Linked DNA regions of Homo sapiens: region 2 is linked to region 1. The links come from fine-mapping of genetic effects on gene expression. Tissue or cell type: whole blood. Region 1 holds a variant in brackets; the other region holds the start of a gene. All regions are shown on one strand. Distances are between the middles of the regions.

The links. PIP is the estimated chance that this variant, and not a neighbour inherited with it, causes the effect.
Region 2: it holds the start of ZFP36L1, and the variant in region 1 is fine-mapped to the expression of ZFP36L1 in whole blood (TOPMed, PIP above 0.99).

The regions. Positions count from the first base shown.
Region 1 is chr14:68,574,725-68,582,824 of GRCh38, forward strand. It overlaps a transcript of RAD51B not described here. Among named protein-coding and RNA genes, the nearest start is that of RAD51B-AS1, 110 kb to the right of the region's middle. RefSeq lists an enhancer at 1,680-1,849. The variant G/A (reference allele first, on the strand shown) is at 3,321.
Region 2 is chr14:68,788,490-68,796,573 of GRCh38, forward strand. It overlaps ZFP36L1 (ZFP36 ring finger protein like 1), which reads right to left and starts at 4,578. Exons shown (of 2, transcript NM_004926.4): 1 at 4,393-4,578; 2 at 1-2,003. The coding sequence starts at 4,449. The coding sequence ends at 1,044. RefSeq lists enhancers at 1,239-1,298, 1,309-1,388, 1,496-2,111, 6,199-6,743, 6,406-6,565 and 1 more and silencers at 4,736-4,805, 4,826-5,025, 7,306-7,625.

The sequences.
Region 1 (8,100 bases):
CCCCATCACCCTTCTCCAACAGAAAATAGTTTATTTTTATTTTTTCATGGCTGGCAGCAAGGCAGCACCTGTGGTAACCTCGTTAGTCAATTCCAAGAGCTCCTCAGAGAAGGGGGAAAGCCTGCCAATTTAGCAAGGATTTTTGGTCTCCAGTAGCTATGAAGTGTGGGGGGGATTGGGGAAATAAGCCCAGGAGCAAGAGAGGTTGGGGATGAGCAGTCTTCTCATCCAAATCCACTCTGAGGTTAGAGAAGAGGAAAGCACGCCATTGACTGGTTTTCTGATTGCCTTCATACATCCAAGTATGTTCTCCACAATGACTTTTTCTCTAGTGGGAAGCCATGGAGATGGACTTAGATAATACCAAGTACCATTTCCTGCATGCCTTTTGCAGGCCAGGCATTGTGCCAAGCCCTTCAGATGGTGCTCCTCAGTGGGAGCTTCTCAGCCAGGGTTTTCTGTCAAAGATACTGACTCGACAATCCTAGAGGATATGGAGTTTATTTATTCCCAACTGGAAAGTGAGGGACTCGAGTCTCTGAGGGGTTAGGTGACTTTCCCAAGTTCTCATAGCTTCTAAATGGTAGGGCCAGAAATCAAATGCTGTCTGATGCCAAGGCTTACATGACAAGCTCCCTCCCTGCTCCCTGCTCCCCCTGCCCCTCATTTCTCTGGCAGTCACCAGATTTTATTTTCCCCAGGATGAGAATCTGTAAAGGTTTGGGGTCTGGCTGATTTGGACTGAAATGGGCTCTGTGGCCTCTTCCCTGGGTCTTAGGCCCCATTTGAAAAATTGAAATGGACCGTTGAATCCCAGAGCCTTGCGGCATGGTAGATTGTGAAATAATTCCATCTCCTCCCCTCTCCCTCCCCAACGCCACACACCCATGGTGAATGGGGATTCTCCCAATGAGGAAGGCTCAGCAACTCCCAGGGCCCCTGACCTGTTCATTCTAGAAGCTTCAGGAGCAGCAGTCCCTGCACCCAGGCTCATGCCCCAGTTGGCAGCCAAGTTCATCCTCTGGACACCAACATAGCTTCAAAAGAGTCAGTGTCAGAAAGCCTCATACTTACCTTACCGTTTAGGGTAGTTTTTATTTTGAAATACATATAGAAAGATATATTAATCAGGGTCCCAGCAAGAAACAGAGTTCTTTTCAAAAGGATTTGACTAAGAAGAATGTAGTGAAGGCACAACTTATAGATGGACGGGCAGGGTTCAGGGCAGCAACAGGAATGTTGAGGCACCCAGGAACTAGCAATAGTGGGAAGATGATACCAGCCCTCAGCCAAAGGAGCAAAGAAAGGAAATAGTGTGACTGGGGCCTGGTGAGTCTTGGCAGCATAGAGGTGGCCACCTGGTGAGAGCAGTGGTCCCAAGGGCCACAGTCCCTGCCATAGCCAAGCACCAGAGCAAAGAGGGAGCAGGGGAAGAGACACCCTCCTGACCTCCAGCCTCCTGCCTGTACCTCACATTTGCCGGACACAAAAGGAAGCTAGAGGCAAAGGAAGCTGGTGATTCAGCTCCTAGCACTCAGCCCCAGGGGTCACAGAGCAGGGCACCAAAGGGAAGAGAATGAACATGAAGGGAGAAGGCAAATGGAGAAAAATAAGCACAGGGGACACCTTCCTCCTTTTCGTGATTAGGATTGTTACCATTGCAGACCTGCCTGCCACCCCCAACCCAGAGGACCTTGAGGCTTTGGGGAATGAGAAGTAAAGCCCCCACTAGAAGGTTGAGGATGCATAAAGCTTAAAACCCTTGTTCTAGGGAAAGTGTCTTTGCAGCCTTTCCATGGCACTTAGTGAGGAATGAGTCTTGTTTCCAGATGGAGATGCTAAAGCATCCAGGCATGCCAGCCCTGGGGAATGCAGGGAAACAGTCTTAGGGATGGACCCAGGCCTTGGTACTTTAGAGCTTCTAGGGTATGAGTCATCTTTGCCTCTTAACAATCAGATCAGTGGTACCCTTCTGACCTCTGTCATTTGGCTGCACTGGAGGCAAGAAATGGTTTGGACTCACGCAGGGGCATGATGTTAGTAAGGAAGGGGTCAGAGGTGAACCTAGCTTGGGTGCTCCACCTCTTGACTCAGAGTCTGTGCTCTTTGATGAACTTTCTGTTACCTTGGGATCTTCTACAGCAGGTCCTGGTGTGCAAGTATTTCAAGATCAAGATAAAATATTTCATTGTGTTTTATTTAGGAAAAAAATGGTAGATGAAAGCGGAACCAACAGGGGCATTCCGTTTGTGGTTTGCTGAGATTCCCTGGAAAGCAAGCTTGGGAGGCCAGGGTCTGTCAGAACACAAGACCAATGTCTTCTCCAAAACTTGGATGAACAGAAGGTGCTTACAAGCTGACAGGGAGTTATGGGGAAGGAAGCAGAATTTCCAGTTTGGTTCCAAGTCTTTTCTGGTCTTGACCTTTAGCCTAAAAACAGAGGGCCCAGTTGTTCTCCATTATTACTGTAACTCAAAAGGAGACACATGGGTCCGGGAGAGAGTTGGGAGGCAATACTAGGTTTGCACGTTCTGAGTTCATGGACACCCAAGGAACTGCCCCTCCCTAGGATAACTAGAGCCAAGCCACTGGACCCTTCTCATCCTGTGGCCTTGTCTACAATTTTAATCATTTTGAAGATGAAGGTTTTGAAGATGAAGGCCCAGCCTCAAAAAGGAATAACCAAGAACAACCCTCTCTCCCTCCTTTAGTTTAGATGCTTCCACAGTCAAATGTAAAATTATTCATGTGCTTTTACTCATTATTCATCTGATTTTATGTAAAAAAAAAAAAAATGGAATCCTAGGCTGGTCACTGCATGGTGTTCTCAATCACAAGCCATGAGCCAGGGTTCAACATGCTCCCTTCACTTCAGACCTTCCTCACAACTGAGCCTGGATCCCACTCTGGACCTCATGATCCGCCTACCACGGCCTCCCAGCGCGCCCAGCCCCTGCTTTATTTTTCTATATAGCACTTATTGTTACCAGATACATTTGTGTTTATCACCTCTCTCATCACACACACACACACACACAGTTAAAGGCAGGGACTTGGTCTATTTTCTCAAAGTTGTGTCCCCGGCACTTAGAATCCTACCTGCCGTGGTGTACATGCTCAATAAGTACTTATTAAGTGAATGAATGGAGTCAGACATGTCCTCAAGGGTAGGTTCAAATCAGGGAGAATGGTGGGTGTCCTTACTGCTTTATAGGATTTCATGCTGGCCCCAGACTTGAGTCATTTCCATCAGGCAAATTCCTGAAATACTTACTGGTCTTCCTGATTCTGTGGTATGTGCTTGTCAACAGCACATTGTC[G/A]AACACGTTGCTGCCTATGCAACACTATGTGGCAATGGCTGTTGAAACTCGTTGCTAACAGAAGTGAAAGCAAAGAAAAGCAAAGATAAAGAACGTAATGGCTGGGCGCGGTGGCTCATGCCTGTAATATCAGCACTTTGGGAGGCTGAGGTGGGCAGATCACTTGAGGTCAGGAGTTCGAGACCAACCTGGCTAACATGGTGAAACCCCTTTTCTATTGGCTGGGCGTGGTGGCATGCACCTGTAATCCCAGCTACTCGGGAGGCTGAGGCAAGAGAATCGCTTGAACCCGGGAGGTGGAGGTTGTAGTGAACGGAGATTGCACCATTGCACTCCAGCTTGGGCAACAAGAGGGAAACTCCATCTCAAAAAAACAAAAACAAAAAAAGGAGAAAGAAAGTAATTTCCCCGCCATGGATGATATGACATGGCAGCTTTCATGGAGGTTTCAGAATCTGCCGGCCCACCTCACACATGACTTCCTATGCAATTAGTATAAAGCAAAGAGACAACAGACAACACTTCACACCTGAGCCCCAGGTCCTGAATGTCTTTGGATAGCCTCTCTCCTTGAAGGATATATTGACTCACAGGCAAAGGGCCCTTATAATGATATAAAGGAGACCAAGTTGGAAGGAATAGATCACAGGAAGGTGAAGCCCAAAATCCAGAAGGGAATTTCAGGGAAAGTGGTCTGGACTCAGGTACCCTGCCCAGATCCATGTGCCTTCCAACACGTGGCAGACAGAGAGGTGACAAGACAAAGGAGGAAAGCATGCTCAAGGGATAGCTAATGGGTGTGTCATTCGACCTTCCCAAGACCTAGCTCTCTGGAAATATCAAGGGTTCAGGGGGCTGGGTCATAGGCTTGCTTTCCTTCTAGCTCACTGTGTGGACCTGGATAAGTTGCTTGGCCTTACCCATCCACCCTTAGTAGCCTCTTCTCTGGCCCCTTCCATGGTTCTGTGCAGAGTAAAGAGGTAGGACACACAGTAGGGCCCAGAAGGGTCTCCTGGCAGTCACTGATGCCAGATTCAGCTCTCTTGACTCTCCATGTTGGTGACGACACCACCAATTTTCCTTTGCACACATGGCCTCACCTTGAAAATTCAAGAGTCTACAGTCAAGTCACTTCTGCTTCTAGGGGCCTCCCAGAAGCACCTAGTATTCTGTTTCAAGTCCTTTGTCCAGCTGCTTTCAAATCACCAAACTCCTCTCTCCCTCCCCTCCATTACTACCCATGGAGATCCAGAGGAGGGACTTCTTAACTTCTCAGACAGTGAATTGAGGGAGCTCAGAGATTTCTTTTATTCCTGGAGCACAGAATGTAACGTAGGTGCACCAGATCAAAGGCATAGCAGCAGCCTGAGCTTCTCTTTGACCAAGTCCTGGGAGGCAGGCTGGGTGTTTGTGTTTGAGGATAGAGTGCCAGATGTTGCAAATAAACATAGAAAACACTCATTTAAATTTAAATTTAAGATGAACAATGAATACTTTTTTTAGTATAAGTGTGTTTTATAAAATATTTGAGCCATATGTATACCGAAAAATGATTCCTTGCTTGTCTGAAATCCAGATTGTGTTGGGTGGTCTATATTTTACCTGGCAGCCCATTTGCATGTTTCCTAAACACACCGGCAGCTCCCAAATCAGCCTGGAGAGAGCTGAGCCTGGTGCGTGGGGCATACCTTACAACCCCAGTTTCTGTTCCCCACCCATGTTCTTTCCAAGGAGGCTGGCTGCCCCACTGTCAGAGTGTCCAGGAAAGAAAATAGAAGAGAGAAAATGGTCATGGGGTTCACGGGCATTGTGCCCCCACCGTCGGCTGCAGCAGAGACTCAGTGTGGCAGATGCCTCCACGTCTCCAGCCCAGGCCCAGTCAAGCAAGGGCCCTAAGATCTGCCCAGAAGGAGAAGGTGTGGGAGGGGGCGGTGCCCGCAAGTGGAGGTGGGGGACAGGAAAGGGAAGGGCCCGCAATGCCAGCATGGAGCTTCGAAGGGGACTTTGAAAGGTGCTGCCTATGAAGCACTGCTTTCCTCCAGAGCAGCCATCCTACCTGCCTGCCCTGAGACCCCCGCTGGCTACCATTATCCCAGGACAAAACAGGGCCCGGGCTCCCGGTTCCCCCTCATTTCCTCTTTCAGTGTATTTTCTCTCCTCCATGTTCTGGAAGTTTCTCTCAGTGTAAGCCTTGTCAGGGAGGCCTGCCACTCTGCCCCACCTCTTCGCCTCCTGCTTGCCCTGCGGCCAGCTGTGGTTTGGCCTGATCTCAGAGCTTAGCACACAGCAGGTCTCCCAGGGTTGGAGGTCCATCCTACCTTTGAGTAGCTGTGTGACCTTGGAGGAGGCCTGTCCTACCTTTGAGTAGCTGTGTGACCTTGGACTACTTAGTGCTCGGCACCTCTGCTTCCTCATCTGCAAATGGGCACTCTGGGCAAGATGAAGTGAGTCACTGAGTGGGAAGTGTTTGGGACAGTGACCCGCGTGGAAGAGACATTGTTATACACGTGGGCTTTATTCCACCCCTGCTGCTCCACTCAGCTGTTCCTCAGTCACCTCCACTGATTTTGTTCTTAGCTGTAGCCCTTCTTGAACCCCTGCCGTCCTAGGTGCACACGCCTGCCCCACACCTCCCACTGTCCCCTCCCTGGGTGCCCATGACTCTCTTCTTCCCTTTCAGTTATTTTCCTCTCTCAGACCCATCCAACCAGCCCCATTTCCCCAAGGTTCTGTTCTAACCTCTCTTTAATCCTTTTTCCCTTGGAGATCTCAAGGAACAGATGGGAGCCTCAGCACAGTATAGCCTTGTATGTGCACAGGCCATTTCCACACGGGGCGGGGACGTGGCAGCTGTGCTTTGGCGGTCATCTCTGGAGAAGGGCGGCTGGGGCTCAGGAGGCTGAGGGAGCTCCTGCTTTTCACTTTCTTCCCTCCTGTGAGATTCAGTTTTTTTCATAAGCATTAATTACTTTTATTAATATAGTAGAATTGCAACTGTAATGTAGGATTTTTTTTTAGGAGAAGGGATAGATTACCTTTGACCAGGCTCTCAGGGTTTCTTTATTAAGTAATCTGCCTTTAAGATGGGATAGGGGGAGGGCATTCAAAGTAAAGATGGTCCCCTAGTTGTGATTTTTCGACTTTATGATGGTGCAAAAGTGATAGGCGGTCAGTAGAAAGTGGCACCACATTCTCCCATGATGCTGGGTGGTGGTGTGAGCCATGTCTCCCGGTCAGCCAGCTGGTTGGGAGGGTAAAGGGCCAATGCCGTACAGTGTGCTGTGCTGCTAGGTGATGTTGCCCAGCTCTGGGCTGTGGAAGCGTTCTGAGTACACTGAAGGTGGGCTAGGCTCAGCTGTGATGCTCAGGAGGTTAGGTGGATCCAGTGCATTTTCACTGGTATTTCCAGCTCACCCTGCATTTATCTGGATGTAATCTCATCATAAGTCAAGGAGCATCTGTACAACAAGCAGTCTGAGGGAAGGCACAGAGGAGAGGCTTTGGCACCTGGAAAGAAATGTCGGGCCTCATACTGCCCATAGTAATTTGTAGATTCAATGCTATCCCCATCCAGCTACCATTGACTTTCTTCACAAAATTAGAAAAAAACTACTTTAAATTTCATATGGAACCAAAAAAGAGCCCGTGCAGCCAAGACAATCCTAAGCAAAAAGAACAAACCTGGAGGCATCACGCTACCTGACTTCAAACTATACTACAAGCTTACGGTAACCAAAACAGCATGGTACTAGTACCAAAACAGATACATAGACAAATGGAACAGAACAGAGGCCTCAGAAATAACACTACGCATCTACAACCATCTGATCTTTGACAAACCTGACAAAAGCAGGCAATGGGGAAAGGATTCCCTATTTAATAAATGGTGTTGGGAAAACTGGCTAGCCATATGCAGAAAACTGAAATTGGACCCCTTCCTTACACCTTATACAAAAATTAACTCAAGATGGATTAAAGACTTAAATGTAACATCTAAAACCATAAAAACCCTAGAAGAAAACCTAGGCAATACCATTCAGGACATAAGCATGGGCAAAGACTTCATGACTAAAACACCAAAAGCAATGGCAACAAAAGTCAAAATTGACAAATGGGATCTAATTAAGCTAAAGAGCTTCTGCACAGCAAAAGAAACTATCATAAGAGTGAACAGGCAACCTACAGAATGGGAGAACATTTTTACAATCTATCCATCTGACAAAGGGCTAATATCCAGAATCTACAAAAAACTTAAACTAATTTACAAGAAAAAAACAACCCCATCAAAAAGTGGTCAAAGGATATGAACAGACACTTCTCAAAAGAAGACATTTATGCGGTCAACAAACATATGGAAAAAAGCTCATCATCACTGATCACTAGAGAAATGCAAATCAAAACCACAATGAGATACCATCTCATGCCAGTAAGAATGGCGATCATTAAAAAGTCAGGAAACAACAGATGCTGTAGAGGACGGGAGAAATAGGAATGCTTTTACACTGTTGATGGGAGTATAATTCGTCCAACCATTGTGGAAGACAGTGTGGCAATTCCTCAAGGATCTAGAACCAGAAATACCATTTGACCCAGCAATCCCATTACTGGGTATATACCCAAAGGATTATAAATCATTCTGCTATAAAGACACATGCACACGTATGTTTATTGTGGCACTGTTCACAATAGCAAAGACTTGGAATCAACCCAAACGCCCATCAATGATAGACTGGATAAAGAAAATGTAGCACATATACACCATGGAATACTATGCAGCCAT
Region 2 (8,084 bases), 210 kb after region 1:
CTACGGTATTCTAGAGCAAAAACCATTAAAGCTACTTCTACAGGAAATCGTTTTACACAGATATTGTATGTGGAATGAATACCATTAACTGCTCACCCCTTACTTTTTTTTTTTTAGCTTTTCTCTCATTTTTTTTTTGTTGTTATTTTTTTTAAAAAGATGTCACATATGAACTGGGGAACTTTAGCACCAAAATCAAGTCTCTCCTAGTCCATCTAGCTTCCCCTTCCTCCCCACTTAAAAAAAAGAAAAAATTAAATCACAAAGTCCCACTTAAGTCAAAATCTTCGTCCGCTTTTTCAGCCTTCCTTCCTGCAGACCTACACAAACCCAGGCAAGATTAGTCAACAGGGGTTCAGATCGGGAAGAAAAAGGTTTTGAATGTCAAGACAGGTTTCCCCCAAAACCCTGGTCTGGCAACAACTCTTCCAAGGGGCAGGGGTGGGGGGGGTGGGGGGGCGGGTACAGGTGGAGAGGTGCCACCGGGAAGAGGGGAGGAGGAATAAGTGTGCGGGAGACTGAAATGAGGGAAGGTGCAGTTGTGTCGCCAGTGGAGGGGGCTGCTGGTTCCGGGTCTCCACCCCGCCATGGGCAGAGGCTCCGGGAGGCCCACGGGTGCCCTCTGGCGCTGAAGAGGTAATGTAGTCACAGTGACAAAGTTAGATTACAAGGCACTAAGTTGCTTCTGTAAACTGTTACTGCTTTTTCTCTTGTGATTTGGCACTTAAGGCTTAAGCCGGAAAAAAAAAGGCATCTACTGACAAAATATGGGACTTGTCTGTTATGCATGGTAAGTGGGCTATAAAATCCAGGGAGGGGGTTTCAAGCCAGAAGAAGCTACTGACAAATTGACTTGTCCTTATGTTAGGTGGGGTTATGAGGGGGAGAGGGAGGGCACATTCTGAGGTGCTGGGGGAAAGGGGTTGAGCTTAACCTTGTTAATGTAGGGCCTGTGGGGAATGGGATGGGTAGGGAGAAGAGGGTATGGGATGTGGGTGCAGGGTAGGGGCTGGAGTAGGCAGGAGGTCCCTCCCTACCCTGGCTTAGTCATCTGAGATGGAAAGTCTGCTGAAGATGGGCAGGCGTCTTGAGTTGTCCAAGGTCGGGGAGTCTGAGCCACTGTGGCTGCTGCTGGAGCTGCTCAGGTAGCCCTCCTGGTCCGAGAGAGAATCCTGAGGGCTGGGGGGAGAGTCAAACATGTGAGGGGACTCGGACATGGGCCGGAAGAGGAAGGTGGTCGGGGAGCCACCCCCGGGCAGCCCCATGCTAGGGGCAAAGAGGCTTGCCAGCTCCTGGCTGGAGAAGGCAAAAGGGTTATTGGTGCCATCGGGCAGGGTAGGTGAGCCCAGGAGGTCATCGGCGCTCAGAATAGGGGGTGGGGTGATGGACGTGGGGCTGTCCAGCAGCCCGGTGGCAGCGGCGGTGGCAGCGGCACTGGGAAACCCAGCAAAGCTAAAGCTATGCTGGAGGCGGGGACGGTCAGCGGAGAGGTCCCGGGCCCCGGCCAGGGCACGGCGCTCTTCAGCGTTGTGGATGAAGTGGCAGCGGGGCCCGTAGGGGCAAAAGCCGATGGTGTGGAAGGTGCGGCACAGCTCCGTCTTGTACTTGGGGTGGCGGGTCAGGCTGCGGAGCTCGTGGATGCCGTGTGCGAACTGGCACTTGTCCCCGTACTTACAGGCACCGTTTTCCTCAAAGGGGCGGCACAGCTCCGTCTTGTAGCGGCTGGAGTTGACCTGGCCGCCCCCGGGCTGCTTCTGGGTGGGCAGCAGCCGCTCGCCCCCTTCCGAGAAGGAGCGGTCTCGGAAGCGGCTGTCTCGCGAGCTCAGAGCGGGGGCTGGCTCACCCTTGAGGCTGCTGAGGAGCTGGTTCTGGTGGAACTTGGAGCTGGGCAGGGTGACTGAGTGCCTCCGAGGGAAGCCCCCACCAGCAGGGGTGCCCACTGCCTTTCTGTCCAGCAGGCAACCCCCTGCACTGGGAGCACTATAGTTGAGCATCTTGTTACCCTGGAGAGAGAAGAGAAAGGATGGTAAGGACAGAGGACATCCACCAGGATGTCCACTATGGGCAGCCCCCTACACAATCACAAACGCCCGCTCTTTCTCAAAGAACTCATCTCTACCTCGGCTCTAGCAAGCTCCCTTCCCTCTCTCCCTCCCATAGGCCATTCACCTGGGTTTATTTTGGCCCCATGCGTAAGAAACCACAAGATCCAAACTGTGTGACAAGCACCCTGCTCCATGCTGACTCCTGCAATGCAACCCCCATGTCCTCTGTCCCCAAAGCTACCACTTTAAAGTTCAACTTTTTTACTAGTCAAATAGATTCTTCAACTCAAAATATCTCACACAACCCAGACCTCTCTAGATTACCGCACCCCGCCCCCGCCACCGCCCGCGACAAAAACAGGTAAACCTCAGAAAGGAGTCTATCATAGGCTACGTTAGGTCCCCTTCCAATCAGTCTCTGCTTAATTGATACCCCCTCCTTCAAGACCTGGCCTAAGACTCTCAACTTCCTCCTTCAGAAGTGTTCCCTTCCTTTGGCAACAGGTTTTCAGACTGCCTTTGCTTTTTCTTGTGGGGAGGAGATTGGGGGCCTGGTCTGAGGTTGGGGGAGACAGGGATGTGATTCCTGAAAATAAAACTCTTTGCCCTAAGTTCCCGGAAGAGATATTTTCTACAATAATCTCTCTCACCATTTCCACTCAGCCCTAGCCCACCCCGCCCCCTTCACTGAGAAGATGCCTTTGCAATTAGTCTTTTGGCTGCAAGAGCAAGCTTGGATAAGAGCTCCAGTGTTTAATCTTTAACGCAAAGCTGCAGATGGAAAGGAAAAGGAAAGCACCAACCCCCCTACCCACCTCCTAGTCAATAGCGGATTGGGGGTGGTGGGGATGGGGGCAGAGCCACCAATGGCAGGTTTCTGTTCCAATAGGACCCTGGTCACCTGCCCAAATTGTACCCAAGATTTGGAAATGGTGCAGGTCAGGGACCTAGGAGTTAGTTCCCAGCCCATGTGGGTGTCATTGTGCAAATTCTAATGTTGGTCCCTTAGGATCAGCAGGGGGGGACCGGGAATCTGTAACTGCAACCACCCCACCGAGAGGATTACAGGAACCCAGTCGAGAGCTGGTTCCCAACAATGAGGTTCATTTAAAAAGTCGTGAGGGGGGAGGGGGGCCAAAGAAAGAAATAGATCAAAGAGCGGGAGAGTCGAGAAAAGAAGGAAGAAATGTTGGGGAGCGCTGGCAGCCGGGCTGGCAAGTGGAGTTTGGGAATGTGCAGGGAGGGAAGGAAGCTGAAAAATTCAAACTTTTTAAATGCTACTCTTCAGCTCCTCGGCGTCCCTGCACCCCAACCCTGCAGCCCTGGGGCGTTGGCAGCTGCACCAACAGGAGCAGCAAGCTGGGAAAACAGAGCAACATGACCCGACGTGTTAAGAGAAGGCAAAACACTTCAGCAATTAAAAAGTAGCCCAGCAGCTTCACCCTTTCAAATTGGGAGGGGGAGGTTGGAAAGAAATTTAACAACATCCATAGACTTTTGCTATGTACATTTAAACCGCAGTCCTGGAACATTCCGAGTTTAAAACTTGCTTTTTCAACACTGGCTGACAAGCAACATGTTTTAAGGAGCCCCCCATTAAATCCTTACTCGCGGGACTCTCGAGTTCAAGCCAGCATTTTGTCGCCACCTCCCCCCCCAACCCCGCCCGCAATCGATGAGCCGCAATGCCTCGGCAACACAGGTAAGCGGGTCAACCTGAATGCCTCTTTCACCCCAAAGTTTGCTGCACGATCGGCTATCGCGGGAAGAAGCCCAACGGAGCTAGGGCGGACTCAAGCCCCACTGCAAACTTGTTCTGCAACATCTTTTTGAATCACAACTTGGCCTTTCTTCCTCGCATATCCCCAGCTCCCCCCAAAGAGTGGAGGAAAACATTGTCCCGAGACTCACTTCCCCGAGGGACCTCCCACTCCCAACCCCACGGGTGGGTAATGCCGCTGGACAGACCTAGGGCGCAGACTGGGAACCCGATCAGACCAGCAAACCTGGGATCCAGCAGCACGTTACGTAAAACAGGATCGCCCAAAACTTGTCCCAATCCCAGCCCTCCCCCCGAAGCCCCCGGGCTGCCCTGCCAGGCAAACTTCGCCCCTCAAAACCCTGGCCTCCAGATTCACATGTAATCCCCGCCAGCAACTGTTGAAACTCAAAGGGTGGGAAGGACGGGGCCAAATTCCTTCAAACTTGGGAGAAATGCCGGAGGAGAAAAGAATCATCTCGCTGCACCACTTTCCCCATTGCCTTCCAAGACCCAAACTTTTGGGGGTTCTTTCTTAAGGCAAAAGAAAAAGACTTTTTGAAAAGCAAATGCTCCGCCCCCCTTTACCTTGCATAAAACTTCGCTCAAGTCGAAGATGGTGGCAGACACGAGGGTGGTGGTCATCCTGTGCGTTCGCGCGAGCCAGGGGCGAGGATCTGGTGTGTCGCGAAGGTCCCGGTGCGGGGAAGGCGCAGCCTCTCCTGTCTGGAGTCCCACACGCCAGTTCCCGGCGCCCCTCGCCTTTCTGACTCCGGGCTGGGGCGCGCAAAGCCCAATTTATAAAGTTCAGATTTGGTGGGCCGGGGGGAGGAGGAGCTTTAAACTTATTTAAATGAGGAAGAGGAGGAAAAAGAAGTTGATTGACACTGGAGTTGAATCAGCCATGCGGTCAGGCGGGGAGGGGGGGCAGGGGGAGGAGAAGAAACTTTCAAAAGGAAGAAGGGGGAGGGGAGACGAGAAAAGAAGGCGGAAAAAAAAAACCCCACTGTGAGCCGCGCACAACTTTTTTTTTTTTTTCTTTAAGAGGAAAAGTTTCAAGTCGGCTGACTTCCCTACCCGGCGCTTCAGGCGCCCCCTCTCCGGGGCCGCGCGGGCGCAGAGCGGGAGGGGCGCGCCCCCTCCTTTGTCAGCCTCAGAGCGCGGCTGTGACGTCACTCATTCCACTCCCTCCGGGGTTCTTGTTGTCATGTTGTTGTTTTTTGTTGGGCAGGAAGGCGGGCTCGACTTTCTCTTTTTGCCAGCGGGAGCTGAAGCCCGTCCTTAGCGCCCGGGCCGCGGTTTCCATCTTGAGCTGGCGGTCTCCTTGAAACTTCCCCAAGTGTCTGCACAACTTACCTTTTCCCGACTTCTCTTCGACACTCGGCTCCCTTCGGCAAACCGGGCAGGCCGAGGACATTAGAAATTTGGGACGCACAGAATGTTCAAGCCTAGGATTTTATGTTGCTGTTTTTTTTCCAGCGGGGCGTAGGGTGGGGCGCGCTGCTGGGGGGACTAGGGAAACTTTTTCCCCAGGAGGACATGGTCTGGCGGGGGCGAGCGCGGCACAATTTAGTGCGCCGCACGCGTCGACACTCGCGCTCGCTTTGCAGCCGGCGCTCTCCGGGTGTGGGCGGGTGGGGGGCGCCGCAAAAAAAGACCACAACCCGGGACGATTGTTTGTTTTACCAGGCCTAGGCGTGCCGTTTCTTTTCACGCATCCAATCTTTAAACTTTTTAGTCAAGAAAACCCTAATCCTTCCTGAATGCCCCTTCCTCCCAGAAAAAGCCCACCGAGCAACTCACTACTTTCCACGCGCGCTCCGAATTCTGGGCGGCGCCACAACCCTCCCTCCTCCTCCATCCTCCCCACACACACCTCAAGACTCTAGAACAATGAAAAAAGGTTACTTTGGTAAGAATGAAGGTAAAGAGGTGGAGGGAGGCGGCACTTTTAACTTATTGTTGCTTCTCTCTCGCCCCCACCGGAGTGGAACATATGGCTTGTCACGCTGCGCCGTTTTGGCGGGAGGTGGAGAGGGGGACATGGGAGCCACGAAACCGAAGGGCCCGCAATGGAGCATGACTCCCTTGAAAATGATAAAATATATACTGTTAGGTTTGGATGCCGCCCACCCAAATAAAAAGTTAACGAGTCCCCCACCCGCCCCCTGCGCCTTGGCCCGACTGCTGGCGTGATGACCCAGGCGGAAGTCGCAGGGCTGCGCTTCTTTCCGATTTCCACGCGGGCTCCGCCGCCCCCCTCGGCCCTCGCACGTTTCTTCCCAGCACTCGAGGCCGCCGAGTCTGTTATGAAACCCGGTGCTGCGGAGTGGCTAAGATTGAGTTCCATTGCGATGTAATTAGGTCACCCCATTATGAGCACGTTTCTTTGGAAAGGACGGGGCGGGCCGAAGAGAGCGCATTCTCACCACCCCCAACACACACTTTTTTTTAAAACTGCATTTCTTATTTATTCGTAAACATCTGGGCAAACCCAGCGAAACCTTCCAAATCACAATTGTTTGAGAAACCGGCTGTTTTTCAACTTTGTGAAACCCAACTTTTGCTGCAGCCACGAACCTACGTGATCCCAGCGGGGTCGGCTTTCATTTGTCTCCTCTGCCCGAAATGGATGGCCCCCACTTTAACTCGGCTGCTGCCCCTCGCTTGTTCTGCTGCTGCCCTCCAGCCGTCTGTTGCTTCCCTCCCCCGCTCCCATTTTTCAGCTTTTCTTGAAATCTGGCAAGCGCCAGAAAGGGAAATAACTTCCATCCACCTTAATTTAAATCATTCAAGTGTAGGTTTCTTTCTTAGAGGGATGTTTGCTCGTTCCTTTCCCAAGTGGGTGTTGGGGCGGTGGGGGAGAGATTTCGTGCAGTTTCTTGGTGATGAGGTAATGAGTTCCAGATTTCAGGACAGAGCAGAGTGCGCGTTGAAACCACAAGGTTAGTCTGAGTTCTGATGTGAAGCTATTTCGGTTTTTTATTCCCCCGGCCTCCACCCATTCCCGCTCCCCCACCCCCCACCCCCCCCAAAAAAGAGGCCGGCTGGTCTTTAACTCCCGAGGGTTCGCGAAGCTCAGCTGGGGGGACCGGAGGAGGGGCTGGAAAAAAGCAAAGGGGAAGGGGACTGGGAGCGGGCGGGGCCCCCTTCCCGGCCCAGGGCCTGTCCCCGCGGGGCACCGGCTATGCCCCTGCTTCGGGCGGCGCCGCTTTCCCTCCAAGGCTGCGGGACCGGCCAGGAGCACCATCAGGCGCCCCAGAATGGCTACAAAGTGGATTTTTCCAAAGAAAGCTGATTCCTCGAATTTCCTCGGCTTTTCCAACTCCCGGAGGCCCTCCCCTCCCCCTCTCCCCGGGGGCGCGGGCTCCGCAAGGCTGCGACTGGCCTAGCCCGCTCGCTCCCGAGTTGTTTACCGGCCCCGCCGACCAAGGGTTTGTTCCAGCTCCCAGAGCCTGTCTCTATAATTAAACTCTTTTTTAAATTGTCGGGTTGAAACGTCATTTCGGGGACTTTCCAAGGGTGAGGGAGCCGAGAGGAGGGAGCGAGTCCCTTAACCCTTCGCTGACCCGGCGTCCCCGCCGCGGTGAGGGCCCGAGGGCGGGAGCCGACCCGCCCTCGCCCAGACGTGGTCGACAGGTGCCCAGGGGTGGCGGGAGGGCGGCCCTACGGTGCAGGAAGGCCGAGGCGAGGCGTGCGTGGCCGTCCCCCGCCAACTTCGCGGTGCATTCCGCCCTCCCGCTCCTTACCCGCGCAGTCCCCAGGCTGGCCGCCGCCTCACCTGCACTGCCGCTTCCGACCGGGAGGCGGTGGGCCGGCTCCTCTGTCCCAGGCCCGACTTCCGGGCCCTCCCCATTCGCCTGGAGCGCGTCCCTTCGTGGGGAGGGGCGGCCCAGGTATTTTAGCTTGGAGGTGGTGGTGGGGTGGGATGTTCGGTTTTGTGCAAGGGGGAAAGTGAAAGTCTTCGGAGTGAAGGAGGCGCTGCGGGTGTACGTATTCATCGGCCAATCTGGACCCCAGGCGCACCTCAAGGCAGATGACAGTGTGCAGCACTGGGCCGCAGGACCCCAGAAGGTTAGGCCTAGTCACAGGCGTCAGCAGGGTACCCCCTCCTGAGAGCCCTGCAGTGTTGCACTTCCTCTCAGGCTTCAGGTCATTTGCAAAATCCCCCAAATTCTTCAGGTTGAAAGAGAGAGAGACACCTGGAGTCCCCTTGTTTAAAGTTTGGAATGCTGATTCCCTGGCCCAGATGGGGCCGGGGAATCTGCATTTTTGGTAAA